Linked DNA regions of Homo sapiens: region 2 is reported to be linked to region 1. The links are microRNA targets in miRTarBase. Many come from high-throughput screens and were not tested one by one. Region 1 holds a microRNA gene; the other region holds the end of a gene's coding sequence.
The links. The annotated mature microRNA hsa-miR-6867-5p reads UGUGUGUGUAGAGGAAGAAGGGA and lies in region 1 at 3,815-3,837, shown strand. An mRNA with a match to its seed (bases 2 to 7 or 8) in the 3' UTR can be bound and repressed. Matches are read on the target gene's strand: a 7mer-m8 pairs with bases 2 to 8, a 7mer-A1 pairs with bases 2 to 7 and ends in A, and an 8mer does both.

Region 2: the mRNA of SH3PXD2A is a reported target of hsa-miR-6867-5p. The part of its 3' UTR that is shown has no 7-base or 8-base seed match.

The regions. Positions count from the first base shown.
Region 1 is chr17:40,189,788-40,195,151 of GRCh38, forward strand. MIR6867 (microRNA 6867) reads left to right here and starts at 3,810; the gene lies at 3,810-3,876. It overlaps RAPGEFL1 (Rap guanine nucleotide exchange factor like 1), which reads left to right. Exons shown (of 15, transcript NM_016339.6): 7 at 647-744; 8 at 853-975; 9 at 1,529-1,707; 10 at 1,795-1,885; 11 at 2,426-2,476; 12 at 2,819-2,906; 13 at 3,139-3,203; 14 at 3,576-3,630; 15 at 3,877-5,364. The coding sequence ends at 4,001. RefSeq lists a silencer at 1,695-1,754 and enhancers at 1,875-1,954, 4,656-5,156, 4,781-4,830.
Region 2 is chr10:103,597,357-103,602,720 of GRCh38, reverse strand. It overlaps SH3PXD2A (SH3 and PX domains 2A), which reads left to right. Exons shown (of 15, transcript NM_001394015.1): 15 at 1-5,364. The coding sequence ends at 905. Among named protein-coding and RNA genes, the nearest start is that of NEURL1-AS1, 83 kb to the right of the region's middle. RefSeq lists an enhancer at 3,575-3,869.

The DNA of each region.
Region 1 (5,364 bases):
TACTAAAGTTTGGGAGGCACTAGCTGGGCATGGTGGTGTGCACCTGTAATCCCAGCTACTTGGGAGGCTGAGGCAGGAGAATCACTTGAACCGCGGAGGCGGAGGTTGCAGTGCCGAGATCAAGACACTGTGCTCCAGTCTGGGCAACAAGAGCGAAACTCCGTCTCAAAAAAAAAAAAAAAGTTTGGGAGGCACTGGTCTAGGACTCAGGTTCTGATCTGAGTGCTGCCCCTCACTCACCTATGGATTGTATTCTGATCCTTTAACCTCCCTGTGTATGTAAGGATGCCACATTTCACAGGCTAAAGACACAGGATGAGTGGGAAGGCAGAAAGCCAGCAATGTCACTGAAGCTTTGTTTTCCTCTACAGTAGGAAAAAATTTCAGCCTTCCCAGTGTCACAAGGACAACAGAGTAAGAGAAAAGCTGTGAAAGAAAGGGAGTAGAAAAAAAGTTATAAATGCAAAAGAAATAATCATTTGACAAATTCCAGATAAATATGGCATAAACTAGTGATAAGATGAGTTCCATTAGTCTAGAATGTGTCAGTGTGGGGTGAGGAGTTTTTGGATAGGACAGTGTCAGTGTGGGATGTGTGAGGGTGCAGGCGGCAGGGGCCGAGGATGAGCAGCTCTTTCTCCTGCAGAGAAGGTCCTTCTCCAGCCCACTGAGGACTGTGTTTTCACCGCACTGGGCATCAACAGCCACCTGTTTGCCTGTACTCGGGACAGCTATGAGGCTCTGGTAAGAACTTCCCAAGGCCTTGACTGGAATGGAGGGCTGAGGAGGGCTGTGAGCAATCCCTCACCCTGCCACCAGGAGCCCAGCCCCTATGCCCCTGCCTGCCACCAGGTGCCCCTCCCCGAGGAGATCCAGGTCTCCCCTGGAGACACAGAGATCCACCGAGTGGAGCCTGAGGACGTTGCCAACCACCTAACTGCCTTCCACTGGGAGCTGTTCCGATGTGTGCATGAGGTGGGGACCGAGGCTGGTGCTATGCTGGGGGGCTGGAGGGAGAAATGTGCCATTGGGAGACGGTGTTCGCAGCACAACGTCCTGGTTCCAAGGCTCACTTGCAGCAAGCCCTTGGGCAACGCATGGCCGTAACCTTTGTTCCCCCATCTGAAAAAAATCGCAAAGAGAGAGACCCCAGAGCACAGTGGCTCAGGGCCCAAGTGCTGTTTACACAGAACCTGACCCAGGATTTCTATTTTTAAAATATTCACTATTAAAGAAATAAAATAAGGCAGAGACAATAATGCCTAGCAGATGGTTGTCTTGAGGATGTCAGCCGTGAGCGAATGCCTGGCACCTAGTAAGTGCTCAGTAGCTGGTGAAATATTATTAATGCTGGTTGTTTTCTTTTTCCGCATCTTTGCCGCCTCCTGTCCTTTCTATTTTTCTATTTTCCACCCCTTCCGCCCCCGCCCTCCTGCCTTTCGCTCCTCATCGCCTTGCACTGCCATCTTCCCACCCACTCCCCTCACCCCCTGGCGCCCTGGCCGCCCCTCCGCTGCCGTGGGTGCAGCTGGAGTTCGTGGACTACGTGTTCCACGGGGAGCGCGGCCGCCGGGAGACGGCCAACTTGGAGCTGCTGCTGCAGCGCTGCAGCGAGGTCACGCACTGGGTGGCCACCGAAGTGCTGCTCTGCGAGGCCCCGGGCAAGCGCGCGCAGCTGCTCAAGAAGTTCATCAAGATCGCGGCCCTGTGAGTGCGGCCGTCGGCGGGATGGGGGGCCGGAGGCCGGAGGCCCGCGCCGCCGCCCGCCCCTGACCCCGCCTCCCACCCCCGCAGCTGCAAGCAGAACCAGGACCTGCTGTCTTTCTACGCCGTGGTCATGGGGCTGGACAACGCCGCTGTCAGCCGCCTTCGACTCACCTGGGAGGTGATGAGACCCCTCCCGTTCCTACCTGGGAATCTGGGCATCCCGGGCTCCCCGAAGTGCGTCCTCCCGGGACGGCCGCCGGCCTGGAGGGAGTCTTTGCGCCAGTTGGAGGGAGGCGCCCTCTTCTGGCATACGCAACCCCAGGGCGCACAGCTTGGCTAATGGACCCTGTCTTTGTGCAAATTAGTGAAAAGCCCGGATCCCGCCTGAGTCACGGCAGGCAGCCCTTGGCCAGGTCAGGTCGCAGACTTGGCTGTGGGAGTTGGGCTGATTTTCATCCACACTCAGTGGGGGCATCTTTATACAAAGCACCTGCATAAGACAGACCTGGCCTTCCCCAGAATAATGAATTCCTCTGGGCTGTTTCAAGCCTCTAGACTTAGCCAAGGCCTGACTTCATTTCCCCACCCACCAGCTTCCCAGCCCCCTACAAGCCATGCAGGCCCTTTTGCCCTCCAACAGGGAGAATTAATCCGAGGCTCCCATGTAACCCAAGGAGCTCCACTCTGATATCCCTTCTCCTTCCTTCAAACTCTGCAGAAGCTGCCAGGGAAATTCAAGAACTTGTTTCGCAAATTTGAGAACCTGACGGTGAGTGGGTTTGGCTCTTTCTTCTGCTCTTGGACTGAGAGCCCAGAAACCCTCTGTTCCCATAAACCCCCTTCCTCAAGCTTTCCTTTCAAGGTGTTTAGTGTATGGGACCCCCCACCCTCCTTACCATGCTGGAGGGTGAGGTTGGAAGGATTGCGCCCCTGTTTTTCTTGAAGGAAAGGGGGAGTAGTCAGGTCCCTCCCCACCACACCATTAGAAAGCCCCCAGCACCCCTATCTGATCAGGAATGTATACAAGGCAGGGGGTGAGGGAGGAAGCTGAGGACATCTTTGGGATGCATTGGCCAGTCTGTCCCTTGATCTCTCTCCTGTGGAATACTAGGACCCCTGCAGGAACCACAAAAGCTACCGAGAAGTGATCTCCAAAATGAAGCCCCCTGTGATTCCCTTCGTGCCTCTGATCCTCAAAGGTGAGAGAGTTACTCCCAAGCTGTGCCGCTTCCACCCATGCTTCCCTTCTCCTATGCCCTGCTTCTGACTTCCAGCTCCCTCTCGACTCAGCCCTGAGTACCCACCTGGAGAGGAGCCCCCCACCACAGACGGAGTGGGTTCTGGGGAAGAGCGGGGTCCTCGGGTGCAGTGGCCCCTTTCGAACTCCTCTCTTATCCTTTCCTCACATTGGATTCTCTCCACATCCCCTAGACCTGACTTTCCTGCACGAAGGGAGTAAGACCCTTGTAGATGGTTTGGTGAACATCGAGAAGCTGGTGAGTGAGTGGCACTGCAAACCCCTAGTCCCACAAGTGGGGGGCTTGCATCCTCTCCCTCTCTCATCACCTCCCAAAAATAGCAGCCTTCCTCCAAGTGCCCAGCTTGCCTAACAGACTCTTGACTGTCTCCCTGGTGGCATCACTGTGGCAACCCACCCACAGGTGGCAGAGCTGACAGGCAGCTTGGGGGCAACTTCACCTCCCCCTCACATGGCACTCTGTTACACCCACTCCTTTGGTCCTTCAGAGACCCTCCAGAATTGGAGACTGGAGGGAGTAAAGCAGAGTGGGAGAATGGCGGAGGGGGAGCATAAGAGGGGGAGCCTCTTTCTGTGCCCCTTTCAAGGCTCATTCCTTGTCATCTCCCAGCATTCAGTGGCCGAAAAAGTGAGGACAATCCGCAAATACCGGAGCCGGCCCCTTTGTGAGTACCCAGGGTACTGAGAGCAGTACAGATAGAGCTTTGACTGAACGGGAGGGTTCAGGGGAGAACTCCCTGTCCAGATGTGTATTTCCATACACTTGCTGGTTCCCCATTCTCTCCTTGCCTCTGCAGAGGCCTTCCTGCCCAACATCTGTCTCAGTCCACAGCCTGATCTTCTGCCCGGTGTGTGTGTAGAGGAAGAAGGGAAGCTGGGAACCTGACTGCCTCTCCCTCTTTACCCACTAGGCCTGGACATGGAGGCATCCCCCAATCACCTGCAGACCAAGGCCTATGTGCGCCAGTTTCAGGTCATCGACAACCAGAACCTCCTCTTCGAGCTCTCCTACAAGCTGGAGGCAAACAGTCAGTGAGAGTGGAGGCTCCAGTCAGACCCGCCAGATCCTTGGGCACCTGGCACTCAAGCACTTTGCACGATGTCTCAACCAACATCTGACATCTTTCCCGTGGAGCAACTTCCTGCTCCACGGGAAAGAGGTCGATGGATTTACCCCTGGACCCATAAGTCTGTTCATCCTGCTGAAGTCCCCTCCCCATTGCTCCTTCAAGCCAAAACTACACTTTGCTGGTTCCTGTCCCCTCTGAGAAAGGGGATAGAAAGCTCCTTCCTCTATGTCCTCCCATCGAGATCTGTTCTGGGGATGGAGCTTCCAACTTCCTCTTGCAGCAGGAAAGAATGCTGCTCACCCTTCTGTCTTGCAGAGTGGGATTGTGGGAGGGATTGGCAGCCTTCTTCTCCACCACCTGTCCAGCTTCTTCCTGGTCAGGGCTGGGACCCCCAGGAATATTATGTTGCCGTGTGTGTGTGTGTGTGTGTGTGTGTGTGTGTGTGTGTGTGTGTGTGTGTGTGTGTGTCTTCTTTTAGGGAGCAGGAGTGCATCTGGTAATTGAGGGTGGATGTTGTGTGTGCTGGGGAGGGGTCCTTCTGTTTGGTGCTACCCTTGTCTACTCTGCCCCTGGATGGTGCGGGGTGCTTTCTCCACCCCCACACTCCCTGCTCAGCTCCTCGTGCTGCCCTGCATGCCCAGGCTTGTGAGCCAAGCTGCTTTTTGGGGCAGGGAGTAGCAGCAGGTGGGAGGGGTTACCCATCAGCCCTTGCAAGTCCCCCACTCAGGCCTCTGGAAGGTCCAGGGATGGGCTCTGATGAGAGGGTAAAAGATGCTCAGGGAAACACAGGCCTCAGCTGCCTAGAGGACCCTCCCCCTGCCTTGCAGTGGGCTCGGGTAGAGCAGTATCAGGAGCTAGGGTTGTCTGCTGCCCACACTCCTGCTTTTTGGGATATCTAACTGCTAAGGAGGGAGTTGACATCCCCCTTCTGGCTCATGTGTCTGACACCAACAACATGGTCTCTGTCCCTCTCTCTTTGACTCTCCCTTTGTCCTCCCCATAGAGCTGGGGTGGGGTGGATCCCTATACCTGGGGCAGGCAGCCCCAAAGTGGGGGAGGGGGATGGCAGAGACTGTAAAGGCGCCACTGGACTCTGGCAAGGCCTTTATTACCTTTACTCCCCTCCCTCTCCCATCACCAGCCTCAAGGCCTGAGGGGTGCAGGGGCTCCTGGCAGCTACTGGGTGAGGTTTCCTGGCACAGACTCACCCTTCTTTCTGGCACCACCTCTTTCCCTTTTGAAGAGACAGCAACAGCCGTAGCAAAAGCAGCTGCTGCTCCTGCTATGAGGGTGTATATATTTTTTACCCAAAGCTCTGGAATTGTACAT
Region 2 (5,364 bases), not on the chromosome of region 1:
CCACCAAGAAGGAATGGGAAGGGCCAGCCACCTCGTACATGACATGCAGCGCCTACCAGAAGGTCCAGGACTCGGAGATCAGCTTCCCCGCGGGCGTGGAGGTGCAGGTGCTGGAGAAGCAGGAGAGCGGGTGGTGGTATGTGAGGTTTGGGGAGCTGGAGGGCTGGGCCCCTTCCCACTATTTGGTGCTGGATGAGAACGAGCAACCTGACCCCTCTGGCAAAGAGCTGGACACAGTGCCCGCCAAGGGCAGGCAGAACGAAGGCAAATCAGACAGCCTGGAGAAGATCGAGAGGCGCGTCCAAGCACTGAACACCGTCAACCAGAGCAAGAAGGCCACGCCCCCCATCCCCTCCAAACCTCCCGGGGGCTTCGGCAAGACCTCAGGCACTCCAGCGGTGAAGATGAGGAACGGAGTGCGGCAGGTGGCGGTCAGGCCCCAGTCGGTGTTTGTGTCCCCGCCACCCAAGGACAACAACCTGTCCTGCGCCCTGCGGAGGAATGAGTCACTCACGGCCACTGATGGCCTCCGAGGCGTCCGACGGAACTCCTCCTTTAGCACTGCTCGCTCCGCTGCCGCCGAGGCCAAGGGCCGCCTGGCCGAACGGGCTGCCAGCCAGGGTTCAGACTCACCCCTACTGCCCGCCCAGCGCAACAGCATACCCGTGTCCCCTGTGCGCCCCAAGCCCATCGAGAAGTCTCAGTTCATCCACAATAACCTCAAAGATGTGTACGTCTCTATCGCAGACTACGAGGGGGATGAGGAGACAGCAGGCTTCCAGGAGGGGGTGTCCATGGAGGTTCTGGAGAGGAACCCTAATGGCTGGTGGTACTGCCAGATCCTGGATGGTGTGAAGCCCTTCAAAGGCTGGGTGCCTTCCAACTACCTTGAGAAAAAGAACTAGCAGAGGGCCTGGGCTCTTCCAGCCTCAGTGTGCCTCTCTGGCCGCCCACTGGATGAGCGGTGAGACGAACAAAAGGGAAAGGAAAAAATGGGGGTGGGGGGTGGGGGGTGGACAACATTCAACACTGCAGAATGGGTGACCTCAAAGATGCCCCCTGTCCAAGCCATCCCACAGCTGGAAGGTAGGGGATGGGGGTGCCCACACTGAGTGAGGAAGGGAATGGACCAGGGAGTCCCAGGCCTGGGACCCAGAGCCAAGAAAGCTGAGATATCCTGTGCACCATAGGGACTTCACCAATGGATTACATGCCATCTGGGACAGGCCATGTGGGAGACCCCAGTTGTGCCTTTGCTACAGATCTGGAAAAGACAAGGTCATGGGGGCCTCCAGTGTCCTGCCCCTGCTTGGCCCAGTTTTGATTGCTGGCATCTTGCCACCCCAGGTATCCCTGGTATTGTCCTAAGCTGTATTTGTGAATTGTGCTGGTTTCCTGGGCATTGCCACGCCTACCACAGGTGGGTACATTAGAAGCCACCACTGGCTTTCAGGCTTGGGGGTGTCTTCTGAGCTCAAGCCTGCTTCTGGGCCAGGCCATTGTCACTGTTAGTTGAAGAAAAAGCAGTTCCCAGGTGCCAGCAAAGACCATCTTTCATAACTGTCACTGTCTTGGCCTTGAGAAGAGAGCCCGCTCTCCGTGGGGCACCCCATGGAGGACACAGTACCAGAGTTTACAGAGAGGGTGGGCGAAGCCACCGGTCTCTTCCTAATCTGCACAGACTATTTTGGGTATTTCTGGGCGGGCAGTTCCTTTGCATGTTTCGGGAGAGGTTTGTTGATTTGGGGCTTATATGTCAGGCCTTTGGTTTGCGTCTTATTTTAGGGGTTGTTTGGGGGCCTGGGTGGTCGGCCTCACATGGGAAGGGGATGGGTAGTGGATGGGGTTTCTGTTGTATCTTGTGGGCGGGTGATTTTGCTTTTGTTTTTGTTTCACATTCTTCCCCCTCCACAAGCCAAAGTCGTTTCATTTGGTTTCCACTGTGTGGACTGTGCTGGAGCTTGGCGCCTGCCAGAAAAATTTGGGGCTAGGCAAGCCCCAGGTTGCAGACATGGTGAAGCAGAGAAACTGTTCTTCTGGTTCCTGCACAACCTCAGAGGGGCAAAAACCCTCCCCAGGAAGGAGGAGGGTGTTCAGGAGCCAGACTTTTGGAGAGAAGGCAGCTCCCAGCCTGCTGGGTGACCGCCATTCTGCGTGTGTTCCCCAGCTGGGCAGGGCTGGAAGCCTTACGTATGAAGCATGGAGAAGCAGCCATTGTCCCCACTATGGGCAGAGGGGGGACCCGGCTGGCCCCTTGGGTCAGACTGGAGCCAACACCGCCAGCCACCCCCTCTGGCCTGCTGGCAATGCCACAGGTGCCCAAGAAGATGGAGGATCCCTGTGCCAGGAGCCAACCTGGTCTTCCCGAGGGTCAGTGCCCCAGTGAAGACAGAAGCGAGAGAATAAAGTTCCCTGTAGGTCCTCTGTCACCTTTGGGTTGTGTTTTTCAATTGTTGACATTTCAGAGGGGACCCTCCAGAAGCCCAGCCGGCTTCCCCCAAGGACTCCCCCTTCGCTGGGAGTGGATTTCCACACGTGCCTTTGATTTCGGACAGATTGGGCCTCACAGCCACCGATTCAGCTGCCAGGGTCCCTGGACTGGGGGTTGGTGTTTTCTATAGAGGAGGAAAGGCCCTCCCTCACCCTGCTCCCCACCCAGGCAGGGCAGCATGGGACCCAGTGTCTCAGTGCCTTCAAAACCCACCCCCACCCCTACCCTACCCCACCACACCCCATCCCAGAGGCCTTGCCTGGGCAACCCTAAGCCCCTGTCCCTCGCCATACACTGATGCCTGGCAGCTAGAGCAAATGGCTCGTGTTCTTTGTCGAAGGCCTGTGGTGAGATTGTTTTGTTTCCTTTTGTTTTGTGAGTTTGTTTAAAATTGAAATTAGTTATTTTCTTCTGCTGGACAGTATTAAATAGAGCAGGATGTTGAGTTAATCTGCTAGATTGCAGTACTAATGGTAGTGGTTTAGTGTCTTCATGTTAATATTATTTGTACTTATTTGAACAATAATGATAAAGAAGTGGTTCATTATTTTTTAATTAATGCACTTTAAATAAGGTAGAATGGAAAAAACCCAGAGAGCAAAGTGCATTACTTAAAGATGCAGTATATACTTTTCTCATTTTTAAACAGCACATATTTATTAAGAGAAAAAAAGTAATTTATGACTATTTAAAATAAAATTTAAAAGTAGAGTGACTGTCAGGTAAAGAACCTTCAATGTAGCTATCTTCCAGGGGGAGGGCCCTGCAGCCTCGCTCCTCAGATGTCTGCACTGAGCCAGTTCAGTCACTAGTGCGCCAGCCAGGCCAGGAGGGAGTGCAGAGCATGTCTGCCAAGCACAGAGCATCTCAGTTGGACTGGACCACAGTGCTCCCGAGAGCCTGCCTTTCCTGCCCTTCCCCACCACCTGCACTGCCCCCCACATTCTCCCAGCCCCCCCCAAGGACCCCCTCTCCTTGACCCCCAGTGCTGTAAGTAATAGAGTCATTAAAATGCAGGACTGAAAGAGACCTCAGAGGTCTCTATCCCATCCCTTCCTGTTACTGCGGCCCAAGGACAGGAAACAACTTTTCCAAAATCCCACAGCTAGTTAATGACAGATCTCCCCACTACATTAATCCCGTGCTCCTCCTCACTGCCATTATAGTTTATTGTGTGGTCATGTTTACATTGTGACATCCAGCCCCAAGGATGGCTGGGAGTTGCTCAGGCATCCAGGAAAAGTGGGGAATGCTGCCATCTGGTGACAGCATGTAGATTTGGGCAGTGAACAGGGATTGCCATGCCCCAGTCTTCGCACCTCGCCCCCTCACCCCCTAACTCACAGCACAAACCCTGCAAACCCAAAGAGAATATTAATACTTGAAGCAAGAAGGGTGCATGCCAGTCCTTCTCCGACATGGCCAGGGGGTACCAGGCCTTGTGCGCCTGGCCTCCTAGCCCTAGCCAGGGCGAGAGGGCCTTTCCCTTGAGCTACTGAGCTGCTTTGTGATGCTGAAGGATACTGCCGGCAGCAGGCAGAGGAGGGAGGGGGCCTAGGGCTCTGACCCATCTGGAGGAAAACCAGATCGGACTAAAAAAGGAAAAAGAAAAACAAAATCTCCGCAGTGTCCAAACCTAGTTTCCCATGAGTTGCGACTGAAAATGTGAAACGACACTGTATTGCTGTATACTGCAACTTTAACCATAATGAGCCCTTCTGAGGTCATTATTGAGGTTCATATAATGCCCGAAGATGCAGCATTTGGTGCTTTGTTTTCCTTTCCGTTTCAAGACCTTTTTCTTTTATTGCAAGGGGAAAAAAATGTCATCTCCCCCCACCTCATCCCTCTTTGTGACAGCAGACCTGGCTGTGTTGCCCCTCTCCTCCTCACTATTCTCACCAGGCCATGGGACTTTGGGGGCAGTGAGAGAGAGCTGGAAAGGGGCAACCCTGAGCAGCAGGTGTGCCCCATGCCCTGTGGGTTTCCCCTATGTCCAATGACTGTAGACGGGCTGTCTTGCCAGGCCTCAGCCCCGTCTACCCTAAGCCTGGCCCCAAAGGTTTCTCTTTCTTCCTCCTTGATTTTCCATCTTGACGAAGGCATTATATAGAATCATTTTAATCACTTTCAGATGTTAGAGCAGCGTATTTTACAGGCATTTATATCCATTGCTTTCCTCAGCAAGGCATGTTACTACTTTTATCATCTAAGGAAAAAAGACAAGGGAATTCCAGTCAGGCATTATTTTCCTATTACTAGTGTTTGCAGAATAGGTGTAGGACTATTTAAGTTTAGACCTTGGTTTGGTAGTTCTTGTTTTTAATAAGGGGAAAAAGATAAAATAACCCCTATTTTTCCTGTTATTGTATTTAACTAATATATTATTTCTTTAAGGTTACTCACTTCCCCTACCCCTCCAAATACCTTGCATTCTCAATCAAAAATGGAAACAATCTGAGAGACAGGAAAAGTGCAATATTACCAAGATGGATGCCAGGGCTCATTGGGGACAATGGAGGGAATACCAGTGGCGCTCAGAGAGCAAGAGGCAGGGAGCGGGGTGCTGAAGGAATCCTAGCTGTGGAACAGGTGGGTGGGTTGGTGGAGTTTGATCTTGTGGCGTTCTCCTCTCCCCCTTCTTTGGGAAGATGATAGGGGTCCCTGCCAGATCCACCCAGAAGAAAGGGATTCAGGCATGGGGCCCTTGACCTCTAGGCCCCAGTCCCTGGAGCAGAGGCAGGCCCTCGGGAGCTGTTCCTTGTTTTGATTTCTGTTGTGGTGCAGCCAGCTGCTCAGAGAGACCTGGCCTAAAAATGACTCCCAGCAGCCCTCTCTCACCCCAGTGTCCTGATATTTGGGCTGTGATCCTT